Homo sapiens: one gene and its partner. The protein of the gene in region 1 purifies or fractionates together with the protein of each later gene. This does not show direct contact. Each region holds a gene or a part of one and is shown in the gene's direction. Other genes may lie near its edges.

Region 1 (7,036 bases):
CTACAATGTTTCTCGAGCAGCTGGCAATTTCTCCTCTCCAGACGGTACCACCGATGACCCTCTGGGAGGTCATACCGTCTGGCAAGTGGTCTTCATCGCTTTCTTAACGGGCATCCTGGCCTTGGTGACCATCATCGGCAACATCCTGGTAATTGTGTCATTTAAGGTCAACAAGCAGCTGAAGACGGTCAACAACTACTTCCTCTTAAGCCTGGCCTGTGCCGATCTGATTATCGGGGTCATTTCAATGAATCTGTTTACGACCTACATCATCATGAATCGATGGGCCTTAGGGAACTTGGCCTGTGACCTCTGGCTTGCCATTGACTACGTAGCCAGCAATGCCTCTGTTATGAATCTTCTGGTCATCAGCTTTGACAGATACTTTTCCATCACGAGGCCGCTCACGTACCGAGCCAAACGAACAACAAAGAGAGCCGGTGTGATGATCGGTCTGGCTTGGGTCATCTCCTTTGTCCTTTGGGCTCCTGCCATCTTGTTCTGGCAATACTTTGTTGGAAAGAGAACTGTGCCTCCGGGAGAGTGCTTCATTCAGTTCCTCAGTGAGCCCACCATTACTTTTGGCACAGCCATCGCTGCTTTTTATATGCCTGTCACCATTATGACTATTTTATACTGGAGGATCTATAAGGAAACTGAAAAGCGTACCAAAGAGCTTGCTGGCCTGCAAGCCTCTGGGACAGAGGCAGAGACAGAAAACTTTGTCCACCCCACGGGCAGTTCTCGAAGCTGCAGCAGTTACGAACTTCAACAGCAAAGCATGAAACGCTCCAACAGGAGGAAGTATGGCCGCTGCCACTTCTGGTTCACAACCAAGAGCTGGAAACCCAGCTCCGAGCAGATGGACCAAGACCACAGCAGCAGTGACAGTTGGAACAACAATGATGCTGCTGCCTCCCTGGAGAACTCCGCCTCCTCCGACGAGGAGGACATTGGCTCCGAGACGAGAGCCATCTACTCCATCGTGCTCAAGCTTCCGGGTCACAGCACCATCCTCAACTCCACCAAGTTACCCTCATCGGACAACCTGCAGGTGCCTGAGGAGGAGCTGGGGATGGTGGACTTGGAGAGGAAAGCCGACAAGCTGCAGGCCCAGAAGAGCGTGGACGATGGAGGCAGTTTTCCAAAAAGCTTCTCCAAGCTTCCCATCCAGCTAGAGTCAGCCGTGGACACAGCTAAGACTTCTGACGTCAACTCCTCAGTGGGTAAGAGCACGGCCACTCTACCTCTGTCCTTCAAGGAAGCCACTCTGGCCAAGAGGTTTGCTCTGAAGACCAGAAGTCAGATCACTAAGCGGAAAAGGATGTCCCTGGTCAAGGAGAAGAAAGCGGCCCAGACCCTCAGTGCGATCTTGCTTGCCTTCATCATCACTTGGACCCCATACAACATCATGGTTCTGGTGAACACCTTTTGTGACAGCTGCATACCCAAAACCTTTTGGAATCTGGGCTACTGGCTGTGCTACATCAACAGCACCGTGAACCCCGTGTGCTATGCTCTGTGCAACAAAACATTCAGAACCACTTTCAAGATGCTGCTGCTGTGCCAGTGTGACAAAAAAAAGAGGCGCAAGCAGCAGTACCAGCAGAGACAGTCGGTCATTTTTCACAAGCGCGCACCCGAGCAGGCCTTGTAGAATGAGGTTGTATCAATAGCAGTGACAAAACGCACACATCAACCCACAGACCTTAGGAGGAGGAAGGCGAGGGCGGGGTGACTTCTGGTGATGATAAAAATGGTTTTATCACCCAGATGTGAAAGAAGCTGCCTGTTTACTGATCCATTGAATAAACCCATTTTAATAGAAAAAGTCAATACCAATTCAGCAAAAAGAAAAAAAAAACATACTACTGAATATAAAGAAATTTATTCTGAAATAGACTTTACGTGTTTTTTTCTTAAAGAGGAGAAAAATATTGCTTGACGGCAATTATATACCCAAAGTGATTTGCCTGGGTCCTTTAATTCCCATTAGCTTTGGAATCTCAGATGAGCATAGCTGACCCAGTTCCCACATTCTTCCCAAGGATCCCAAAAGTGGGAATCCAGACCCCAAGTGGAACACTGCAGGCTTACGAATCTGTGGTTCCAAAATTATTTCATACGTTGCAAAGCTGAATCTTCTTGTCCCAATAGAGCTTCCTGTCTTTTCTTTGGTGTGTTGTTAAACTCTATTTGTGGACTTGATTCTTGATTCTTGCAAAGTACTGTTTTGTGCAGTTCAAGTTTCGTACAAATAAAAATACTTAAGTATATATATATGTGTGAGTTCTGCACGCACACACATAGTGTATATAATATCATGGGAAACACTGAACTGGCAAATTATTCCTGCAACATACGCTTTCAGTACTTTGGTAACTGAAGTTCTCTAGGATCCTAATGCAACATTAACGTGAAATAAGCCCAGTGTAATGTTTTTGAAACCAGGGCTGTTTTCCACAGAGAGCAGCCAGGCCTTCCCAGCAGGTCTGTGCAGAGCGGACAGGCTCGTGAGTCAGCTGAGCGCCGTGGCTTCGCCAGACTTGGTGTTAAGCAACCTCCTTTGTTGATGTCTCAACAGAGCTAAATCGGGGCCCCTCTGAGCTCAAAGAATGAACCACATCCACACGTTTGAATTTAATCATCTAAATCTGAATGTTTCAGAACAAAATTTCTGCTATCTAAACTGCTTGAAACTCAATAATAGTGTCACGTTTGAATGTCATACACAGCAATATATATATATGTGTATATATATATATATGGCAAAGCAAAAAAAAAAACATGGTAAGAGAGAATGAAGGAGAACATTGTGTTTGATTCTTGCTGAATGGCACCTTCTCAAAGAAAATAGGGCTTGCACCTTTGTTAATCAGCTGTGGCCAGTGCTTTCTGGTGTTCATTGTGTAACCTTCACCCAGGAATAGGTGAGGTTTTAGGAAGTTACATGTCCTCTGAAGAAAGAATTACACTCTGAAAAGTAATGCTTCAAATTGATTTCCTTACCTTTTGGGAAAAAAAAAAAATTGTTTTTTTGCATTCTCCCTTGAATTGACCAAAATGTTAACTGTTTCATTTGGGGAGGGGATGGGGTGCTGCCATCATTGTCGTTGTTGTTGCTGCTGTAGCTGTTGGGGTTTCTTTTCCTGTTGCCGGGGCTGTTTGGGGAGAGGGAGGGGAGGGAGGTGGGAGGGCCGCGGAGATATCTTCCCTTTGTACAGGGCATTCGTGTTGTGAACCCAGAGCTGGGTAGAAGCTGCTTTTGTATTCAGTGTGAGGTGGTGTTTACAGACGACTTTGACAACAGTAGAAGTGTACTCAGTGGTGTCTGTGTATCTGAACTATTTAATTTCGTGTTATGTTTATATGCAGAAATATTTATGGATACTACACCAAGTGTTTATTTAATGTTGATAAATATGACTCTTCAGTCGTCAGCCATGGTGTCCTTTCAAAGTGATTCTTTAAGGTCCACTTGAGCAATGAATAGAGTATATTGGAGCTTTCCTGTGGCTAAGAAGAAGAAACATGTCATCCTGTTGGCATCACCAAGCACCTAACTCTTTCTAGGTAATAAAAAGTCAACGGTCACTTCAACGTAAATGTTTAAAACCACTCTTTAGTTAAATCTGATGGGAACTGAACAAAGCTCCACCATTGTGTCTGAAATCATTTTACACAGGGAAAAAAAAAAACAATCAGCATAATTGTAAGAATGATTTTTTTGGGCCCACATTCAACCAAAGAACAAGAAAGAAACAGACGATTTTCTAATATGTACACAGCAAACTACAGAATGTCATATTATCCACCTGTGAAACATCTAGTAAGCAATTGCATCTATATTTTATTTCTCAAGTTGGCCTGGCACTAATAAATATGTGAAAGCTTATTCAAGTGTCCCAGTACTTCAGCACTTCCCATCCTTTTGGAAACTCCTATCTTGCCTCCCTCCCAAAAGGGCTGTTTCTTTTATTAAAAAAAAAAAAGAAATAGAATTAAATTTGAGAAAAGGAGAAACCCTGAAATTTAACAGAACTTTGAGAGTCACTTCCAATCTCCTTAAACATGATTATCTCCTTATCCTTGTCCTTTTGTGATGCTAATAATAGCAGAAAAGGAACAAATCCAAGACTCTAGGTCTCCCTTTTTTGTTTTACTGGTTTTATTATAGAATTGTTTTTAAGCCTCTTATGGATGAAAGCTGCATTTAAATACTATCTACTGATTTTATAGAAAGGTATGTCCATTTCTTGGGTCACTTTCAGAGAAAGAAAACAAGCAAAATAGGTTCTTTTGAATATGAATAATTTAAAAGCATAATTGAAGATGTAGTGAGTATTTATAATTGGACCTTAGTTACACGTGCATTTCTCAAAGGGCTTGTCATTACAGGAGATATTCAGCACTTACCTAAGATCAAAATGTCTTCATCCCAAATTGGGAATCGAATTATTTCATGCCATATGCATGAGGTTTGCAGACATTTCAAGATTAGCCACTTTGCTTGAAAGAAGAAAATGATCAAACCTAAAATAAACTACACATGGAGAATCTCTCTCTCTCTCTCTGCCTCTCTCTCTCTCTTTCTCCCTCTTCTTCCTTCTCTCTCTCTCACAAGCACACACACACACACTCAATCTCCATTCTCCAGGCATTGCCAGATGGTTAGGAGAAGTGAGCTCTCTCTGGTCCCCTAGATCCCTCGGCTCTGCTCTCCTTTGCCCATCAGCTCCCTGTGGCCTCTATGCTAGTCCTCCCTATTCTCCTAGTCACCCTTTGCCTCTTAAGCCCAGCCTTGACTCTCTACATATTTTTCATTTCTCTTTACCCTTTAGTGTACAATAGTTGTAGACTCTGACGGAATGAAAACAAACAAGAAGCCTAAGCGTTAGACCCTGCTGTGGCTAAAGATCTAGAAGGCATATCAGTTTTCTCTGTCAGGCTTCCTACGTTGCCCTCGTGCAGGGCTCATTGCTCTGCAGAGCGCTGGAAGCCCCTTCATGTATCGAGAGAGAAGCTGGAGCACAGAGCTCTGATGCACAGTTGGCTGTTTCAGCTCTGACTCAGGGAGGAAAGAAGGATGCCAAGGCTCTGTCACAGCGGAGAAGTCTAATACCAGAGTGGCACAGAGAAGGATTCCAGGGATCAGTCAGGGTGTCCTGTACCTATCTGAGTAGAGATGATTCAAGGATGGGGACATATTCCAGGAAATTGCACAATCTTCCCCTGGCAGCTTCAGAGGACGAGTGAAAATAGTGCAGTATAGTCAAAGAAGCAATGAATTTAGGATGAGGAACCTGAAGTTTCTGGACCAGTTTGGTCACTGCTTAGTTACATGTCCTTAGGAATGCTTGTCACTTAACCTAAACTTTCTGGGTTTTATCCTCATTGCTCAAACTAAGCAACAACACCGAAGCTTCTCTAATTTGCCTTCTGATGCCAAATCGGTCAAAACTGAGGTCAGCAGCTACCATGACGAAAGTAAAATGGTATATTGGGTGAATGTTTGAAAATTTCAGATTTTATATTCTGTAAAGTTATTTACTTACTCTATTTCAACACCACAAAATCTTGAAATTTGGAAGGTAACCAAGGAAGCTTTGAAATTTGTTGGCAAACCCGGAGTAGTATGGTTTCAAATACCACTCCAACCCAGCACCTGAGGTCGGGCAAACTCACAAAATAGAGTTTCTAGGTAGCAGGTGTTTGCTTTGGTTTTGCAATAGCATTTCTCATAACAGAACTGAAACTGTATAGATTACAACACTCCAAAGTTATTTTTTTTTAACCTAAAGAACCCTACTTCTAGCACCTCCTCTGAAAGAATATTTTGCTCCAATACCACGTGCAACAAACTTATTTAGACAGTATCAACTCTAGCCCTTAATAGGTTCAAGGACAAGTTTACTGCTTCCTTTCTACACGCTTAAGTTACACTCTCTTCTCCTGTTCTGATGACTCTAAATCTTCAGCCTCTCCCAGCATTAATGTGTGAGTCAACATTGCAGACCTGAGAAAGGTTTCTAGAATGGTAACCCAATGTTCTTTAGAACTGGAGAATTCCATTTTCCTTTTCTGGCTTTAGTGTTAATGTCTGGGAAGGGAGGCTCATGATAAGAAAATAAAAATGAGAAAAGAAGATCTAGTTCATAAAATGACTATACCCCACGTAAGTTTGTAACTGCACAGTGTTTTGTTGTACGGCTCAGAAATGAGCAAGTGTTAGTATTATTAGGCACACATCACGTTCACAGCTTCGCGCAGAGACGGATAGTGTATTTGGATATATGGAAGTCATCCAAATGCGTTGCTAGAATATCAGGCCTATGTTTGTTCTGGTAGAACCACAGAGACTCACACAAAGTTCTGACCCTACCACTCTGGTCTGGGCTGAGACCACCCCAAAAAATCATCTAGAGAATCAAAGGGGCTCACATCTCAGTTGCATTCTATTTAAAAGATAAAGGGGCCATACTCTCCACTGCAAAGAAGCATTAGTAAAACTTCCCGCACCCAAATTATAATCCGGCAACCCTAGCTTCAGCTAAAAAGATTATCCCCAGAATCTAAAAGCTTACTATTGTTCTTTCTTGGAGTCCAAAATGCTTAGCAGTTCTGCAGTTCACATACAAAACTCAAAACTCTTTTTATCCTGTATTCTGTGAGTTCCTTGATGATAGTAATTGGGTCTTATTCATCACTCTGTATCCTGTGGCTCACACAGAATCTGGCAAATTGCATATATTCAATAAATGTTGAATATCTAATAACCTCCTTATTAATATAACAAATATTATCAACATTCTGTGCACATCAATGTCCCATGCTGCTACTGTAGTCAGGAGTTATTTGGCTGGGAAGTGGAAAGTGTTCACAAACATGATGCTTATCTAATAAAATATCACTGAGCAATAAGGAGAAATATTTTAAATAGATTTGAAGTTGTGAACAAATAATTTAGAGTCCAAAGAGGAAAAAGAAAATTAACTCTGTTTTTTATCCCTAGAACTCAGAAACTTTACTGGATTGG
Region 2 (7,036 bases), on another chromosome or scaffold:
ATTACTTTCCAGGAAGTTACACCAACTTTTTAAGTTTACTAATAGTGAATGAGAATGCCTGTATCAGTACACCCTTGCTAACACTGAGTATTAATATTACGATTATTTTAGTATGCTAATTTAAATATTTTAAATGGCCAGGCATAGTGGCTCATGCTTGTAATCCCAGGACTTTGGGAGACTGAGCTGGGAGGATTGTTTGAGCCCAGGAGTTCAAGACCAGCCTGGGCAATAAAGCAAGACCCTGTCTCCACAACAAAAAACAAAAAATTAGCTGGGCGTGGTGGCATGTACCTATATCCCCAGTGTGTAGAGAGGCTGAGGCAGGAGGAGTACTTGAGCCCAGGAGGTCAAGGCTGCAATGAGCTATATTACGCCACTGCCCTCTAGCCTGGGCAACAGAGTGAGACCCTGTCTCCAGAAAAAAATTAATTTAAAAAATATTTTAAAAGTAACTCAATGTATTTATTTATTTATTTTTATTTTTAATTTTTTTTTGAGATGGAGTTTCGCTCTTGTTGCCCAGGCTGGAGTGCAGTGGCACAATCTCGGCTCACCGCAACCTCCGCCTCCCAGGTTCAACCGATTCTCCTGCCTCAGCCGCCCGAGTAGCTGGGATTACAGCGCATTACATGCGCCACCCCACCTGGCTAACTTTTTTGTATTTTTAGTAGAGACGGGGTTTTTCCATGTTGGTTAGGCTGGTCTCGAACTCCCGACCTCAGGTAATCCGCCCACCTCGGCCTCCCAAAGGGATGGGATTACAGGCGTGAGCCACCACGCCCAGCTATTTATTTAATTTTTTGAGATGGAGTCTCGCTCTGTCGCCCAGGCTGGAGTGCAGTGGTGCCATCTCGGCTCACTGCAAGCTCCGCCTCCCGGGTTCACGCCATTCTCCTGTCTCAGCCTCCTGAGTAGCTGGGACTACAGGCACCCACCACCATGCCCGGCTAACTCTTTTTTGTATTTTTAGTAGAGACGGTGTTTCACCATGTTAGCCAGAATGGTCTCGATCTCCTGACCTCGTGATCTGCCCGCCTTGGCCTCCCAAAGTGCTGGGATTACAGGAGTGAGCTACCGCGCCCAGCCTCAATTTTGTTTTAATTTAGATTGTATTATTCCTTCCACTACTTCTATACCTAAAGTTTTTTTTTTTTTTTTTTTTTTTTTGAGGCGGAGTCTTGCTCTGTCACCCAGGCTGGAGTGCAGTGGCGTGATCTCGGCTCACTGCAACCTCCGCCTCCCGGGTTCAAGCGATTCTCATGCCTTAGCCTCCCCAGTAGCTAGGATTACAGGCATGTGCCACCACGCCCGGCTAATTTTTTGTATTTTCAGTAGAGATGGGGTTTCATTATGTTGGCCAGGCTAGTCTCGAACTTCTGAGCTCAAGCTATCCCCCGCCTTGGCCTCTCAAAATGCTGGAATTAAAGGTGTGAGCCACCATGCCCGGCCCCAGTTTTTCAATTTTTTTTTTTTTTTTTAACAATTATTGTCCTGGTGGTGGGACTCTTGCCATGGGGATTTCGGAATGAAGTAGAGAATGAGGTCAACTATGTCCTGTTTCTTTTGTTGTTGTTTGTTTATTCATTTGTTTTAAATGTTGGACTGTGTATCGGAAACAAAAAAGGAACCAATTTTATTACGTGATCACTGCATGCCAGGGCCTGACAGGTGATATCAGAAATTGAACCCAAGTTCTTTCTTCAGCGACAGCACTGGAAACATTGTTCTGACATGGACCTTTTGTTTCCCTGGGACTGTGGTTTTATTTTTGAATAAAAAATTTTGGCCTGTGCTTCAGAACAGGTCTTCCTGTTTTATTCCTTTATTCCTTCCACTATTTCTATACTTAAAGATTTTTTTTTCTTTTCTTTTCTTTTTGTTTTTGTTTTGTTTTTTTTTTTTTGAGACGGAGGGCATCAGGAAGTCTTAGGCTTTCCTGAATAATCCTTTATGGACCTGTCATCTTTGAATTTATCAAACTCTTTTTTTTTTTTTTTTTTTTTTTTTTTTTTTTGAGATGGAGTCTTCCTCTGTCGCCCAGGCTGGAGTGCAGTGGCACGATCTTGGCTCACTGCAACCTCCACCTCCCTGGTTCAAGAGATTCCCCTGCCTCAACCTCCTGAGTAGCTGGGATTACAGGTGCACATCACCATGCCTGGCTAAGCTAATTTTTTTGTGTTTTTAGTAGAGACAGCGTTTCACCATGTTGGCCAGACTGGTCTCGAACCCCTGTCCTTGGCCTCCCAAAGTGCTGGGATTACAGACATGAGCCACCGTGCCTGGCCTATCTAACTCTTCTTAAATTAACTTGTATTATGCCCACCTGTGATGTTATATATATTGGCTTTTGTCCTAGTTACTAGTTCATAACTTCTATAGCTCTTGCTATAGCCTTTTGTTAACAATGTTGGGTATGTTAGGCCTCTGGAAAGAGAATCTCTCTCCTGCCCCAAAGCAGGACTCTAATCTCCCTCCACCTTTCTGATCGTGGGTCTTAAGACGCTCCCCTGAGAGATCCCACCCTACACCCTGTGTGAGGAAATGTTGATGTCACGAAGCTCATAAAAACCCAAGAAGACTGGGTTTGGACTGCTTCCGGATAGCCGAACACGTGGAGGTTCCTGGAGGGTGGCATGGTCAGGGAGGGCATGGAAGCTCTGCACCCCTTCCCGCATACCTCACCCTACTGTCCCTTCATCTGCATTCTTTATAATATCATTTATAATAAACCTGTAAACATAAACAACTGCTTCCCTGAGTTCTGTGAATCACTCCAGCAAATTAATCAAACCCAAAGAGGAGGTCATGGGAAACCCAACTTGAAGCCGGTTGCTCAGAAGTTCTGGAGGCCTACTTTTGCAAGTGGAGTCTGGGGTTTTTGTGGGAGAGGTTAGTCTTAGAGACCAAGTTCCCAACCTGTGGGATCTGACACTGTCCCCAGGTAGATTGTGTCAGAACTGAATTGGACACCCAGTTGGTATCCGCTGCTTGGAAGAACTCCCACACATTTGGTCACAGAAGTCTTCTGTGGTTGATGATTGTTGTGGTTTGAGATTAGAGGAGAAACATAGTTTGAAAGAGGTTTTTTTGAATCATCATCTTACCTATTAATTGTACTCATATGTATTCATATTTTAATACATATATATTTTGGGTTTGTTGCTGATGTATTCTTTTCATTTTTCATTTTGCAGTTATTTGAAAAATAGTTTCATACCAACTGAGGTGTCTGTTCTGGTCCGTGCTATTTCCCTGCTCCCTTCTCCTCACTTGGACGAAGTGGGGATATCCCGAATTGAAGCCGTTTTACCACAGTGTGACCTAAATAACCTGAGTAGTTTTGCCACATCTGTTTTAAGATGGATTCAGCATGATCACATGTATTTGGATAATATGACTGCGAAACAACTGAAACTACTTCAAAAATTAGATCACTATGGTCGTCAGAGACTACAACACAGCAACAGTTTGGATCTGTTACGGAAGGAACTTAAATCTCTCAAAGGAAACACGTTTCCTGAGTCACTTCTTGAAGAAATGATTGCTACTTTACAGCATTTCATGGATGATATTAATTACATAAATGTTGGGGAGATTGCATCTTTTATTTCTAGTACTGATTACCTCAGTACTTTGCTACTAGATAGGATAGCCTCAGTGGCTGTTCAGCAGATTGAAAAGGTGAAATTTAAATGGTAGACATTAATTTTATAGAGTTGTCAACTTCTGCAAGCATAATTTTTATCATAGGCACTTTGAGAACTTGGATTGGAATTTGAGGTTTAAAAATTAAATAAATTCTGGGTCAGATGTGGTAGCTCAAGCCTGTAATTCCAGCGGTTGGGAGGCTGAGGTGGGAGGATTGGTTGAGCCCAGGAATTAAGGCTCAGTGAGCTATGATTGCACCACTGCACTCCAGCCTGTGTGACAGAGTGAGACCCTGTCTCTTAAGAAAAACAAAGAAAACTCTGGTTTCTATTTCAGCGATTTGTTGTTCCTCTCCTTAAAGTCACTTTCTCATTCCGGCATTGTAGATTTGGAAAGATCAGCAATCATTCTTTGGTTCATTACAGTATTAAGATTAGTAATCAATTCTTTGAGGATACTCATGTTAGGACAGTGGAGTATGAATGATTTTTGGTTTTACTTTTTCTTATTTCTGTAATCGTGTGGTATTATTTTTACCATTTAAAAACAATTATATTCAAAAGTGTGAGATAAGCTTGAAAACTGAGAAAATTATAAGGTATCCATTGGCAACTATATTCTTAAACTGTCATTGCATCTTCTTGCAGATTTATTTCTGGGACTTGTAAAATGCCGCTTTATGGATTATGTGAGAAGCAGCTCACTTACAAAATCACTATCATAAATATATCAGGGCAAGGCCTTTATTTAAAAGACAGTGTTTCTCACAAATGAAAATAAAAAGTTTGTCTTAACTTGCTTAGTATAGTGCCTGGAAGTCATTAAGTATTGGATGAATGAGTGAAAAATGAAATAAAAAAGCAAATGAAAGAAAAATAAATGCTAGTGATTATAATTTAAGAAACTTCTTTAATTATGATTATTCTATAAAATGTACTGATTATCATGGAAATTGCTGATACTGTTTCCTATTCAATTTAGTGACTAATGAATTCTGAAACAGAATTTATTTACTTATTTTAAATTTAAATAAAGACAGGGTCTCACTATGTTGCCCTGACTAATCTCGAACTCCTGGCCTCAAGCAATCCTCCCACCTCAGCCATCCAAAGTGTTGGGATGACAGGCATGAGCCACCACTCCCAGCCAGAACAGAATTTTACACCTAACAAAATAAATTTGTAAATTATCTGATTTACTTCTTTTTTGTTACATTAACACTTTTGGGGTTATTAATAATGTTGGTGGGGTTAAATAAATTATAGCAGGATGGAAAAATTAATAAGCAGGGTGATACATTTATTATTTAACTGTAGCGATGATAGGAAAAGATTTCTCCTAAAAAATAATTAGGTTAAAATTTTGTCTTATTTTCCTAAAGTTTAAACTATAAATTTTTTGTTCTTTTTATACAGATCCATCCTTTTACAATCCCTGCTATTATTCGTCCATTCAGCGTATTGAACTATGATCCACCTCAAAGGGATGAATTTTTGGGAACTTGCGTGCAACATCTTAATTCTTACTTAGGTAGGTATATTGTTTGGTAATACATTGAGTGAATAAGTCAGAGGATACTTGTTGCTGCTGAGCTAGGAGATGTCCCTCATTTAAAGGGTAACCATAATAGACATGAATTATCTACCTAAAAAAAGGTTTTTTGTTTGTTTGTTTGTTTTTGAGACAGAGTCTTGCTCTGTCGCCCAGGCTGGAGTGTAGTGGTGCGATCTTGGCTCATTGCAACCTCTGTCTCCTGGGTTCAAGTGATTCTCCTGCCTCAGTCACCCCAGTAGCTTGGACTATAAGCATGTGCCACCACACCCGGCTAATTTTTTGCATTTTTAGTACAGACAGGGTTTCACCATGTTGGCCAGGGTGGTCAGGAACTCCTGACCTCAGGTGATCCACCCGCCAAGGCTTCCCAAAGTGTTGGGATTACAGGTGTGAGCCACTGCGCCCGGCCCTATAAAAACTTTGTATCCATTTTAATTATGAAAAATGTCAAACTTGTATAAAGAATTAAACAAAGAACACATATATACTCACCGTGTAGATTCAATAATGTTAACATTTTACAGTGTTTGCCTTATCCGTTTGTTTCTCTGACTCTCTTATTTTTTTCTGAGCCATTTCAAAGTTGTAGTCATTGTGACCCTCCATCCCTAATTACTTTAGCATACATCTCCTAAGAATAATGACATTCTTCTGTACCACCACAATACTGTTGCCACACCTAAGAAACTTAATCATAGTCCCCTAATATCTAATACACAGTTCATGTTTCAGTCTCCCTAAGTGTTACCAAAATACATTTTAGAGTAGTTGTTTTGCACCCAGTATTCACTCATTGTGTTTGGTTGTTATCTCTTCAGTCTCTTATAGTTTAGAATTTTGTTTCCTTTTTTTCTTTTCTTGGCATTGACTTGGTTTTTTTTTTTCTTAACTTTTTGTTATCCAGGTTTTCAAATATACAGAAAAATTGAACAATACAACAAACATCTGTATAATAATAAACTGTATAATAATGAACTGTAGCCCCACAGTCGTGATTGAGTATTGATTAACATTTGCCACATTTGCTCTGTGTATGTGCACAAGCGCGTATGCGTATGATGAACCTTCCAGTTGTCAGCTCTGTGTACTTCAGGTTATAAGGACGTTCTCCTATGTAACTACAATACTGGTATCATTACCAGTACCAAAGAAAATGAACAAGTACCATCTACTACCTAGTCCGTAATCAAATTTTCCCGAGTCACCAAATTATCTTTTATAACTTTTTTTTTTGAGACAGAGTTTTGCTCTTGTTGCCCAGGCTGGAGTGTAATGGCACAATCTCGGCTCACTGCAACCTCCGCCTCCCAGGTTCAAGCGATTCTCCTGCCTCAGTCTCCCGAGTAGCTGGGATTACAGGCATGCGCCACTACGCCCAGCTAATTTTGTATTTTTAGTAGAGACGGGGTTTCTCCATGTTGGTCAGGCTGGTCTCGAACTCCCGACTTTAGGTGATCCACCCACCTCAGCCTCCCAAAGTGCTGGGATTACAGATGTGAGCCACCGTGCCTGGCTATAACTTTTTTTTAAACAACCAGCATTGAGTAGTTATGTCTTTTCCTCCATCTTTTTTGCTTGATATTTATTTTTATAAAATGATTGGCCATTTCTTATAAATTGTGCCACATTCTGGATTTGTCTGATTGTTTTCCTGTAACTTGCTTCTCCATCTCCTGCATTTGTAGTAAACTAGAAATTAGGTATAGATGCTTGGTTAGGTTCAGATTAAACATTTGCAGCAAAAATAACTTGTATGTAGTGCTGTATACCTTATATTTAGATCACATCTGGAGGCACATAATGTCTGATTGTTTCTGTCTATTTAGATTTT

The links. The genes of interacting proteins can lie anywhere in the genome.
Region 2: the proteins of CHRM3 (region 1) and FASTKD1 purify together in Homo sapiens (affinity purification with mass spectrometry; 2 studies listed by BioGRID and IntAct, with this or other methods). This does not show direct contact.

The regions. Positions count from the first base shown.
Region 1 is NC_000001.11:239,907,568-239,914,603, forward strand, and holds part of CHRM3 (muscarinic acetylcholine receptor M3), read left to right. Parts: coding exon 1-1,657; 3' UTR 1,658-7,036.
Region 2 is NC_000002.12:169,542,866-169,549,901, reverse strand, and holds part of FASTKD1 (FAST kinase domain-containing protein 1, mitochondrial), read left to right. Parts: intron 1-3,197; coding exon 3,198-3,684; intron 3,685-5,066; coding exon 5,067-5,181; intron 5,182-7,036. UniProt on the Homo sapiens protein: Involved in the down-regulation of mitochondrial MT-ND3 mRNA levels which leads to decreased respiratory complex I abundance and activity.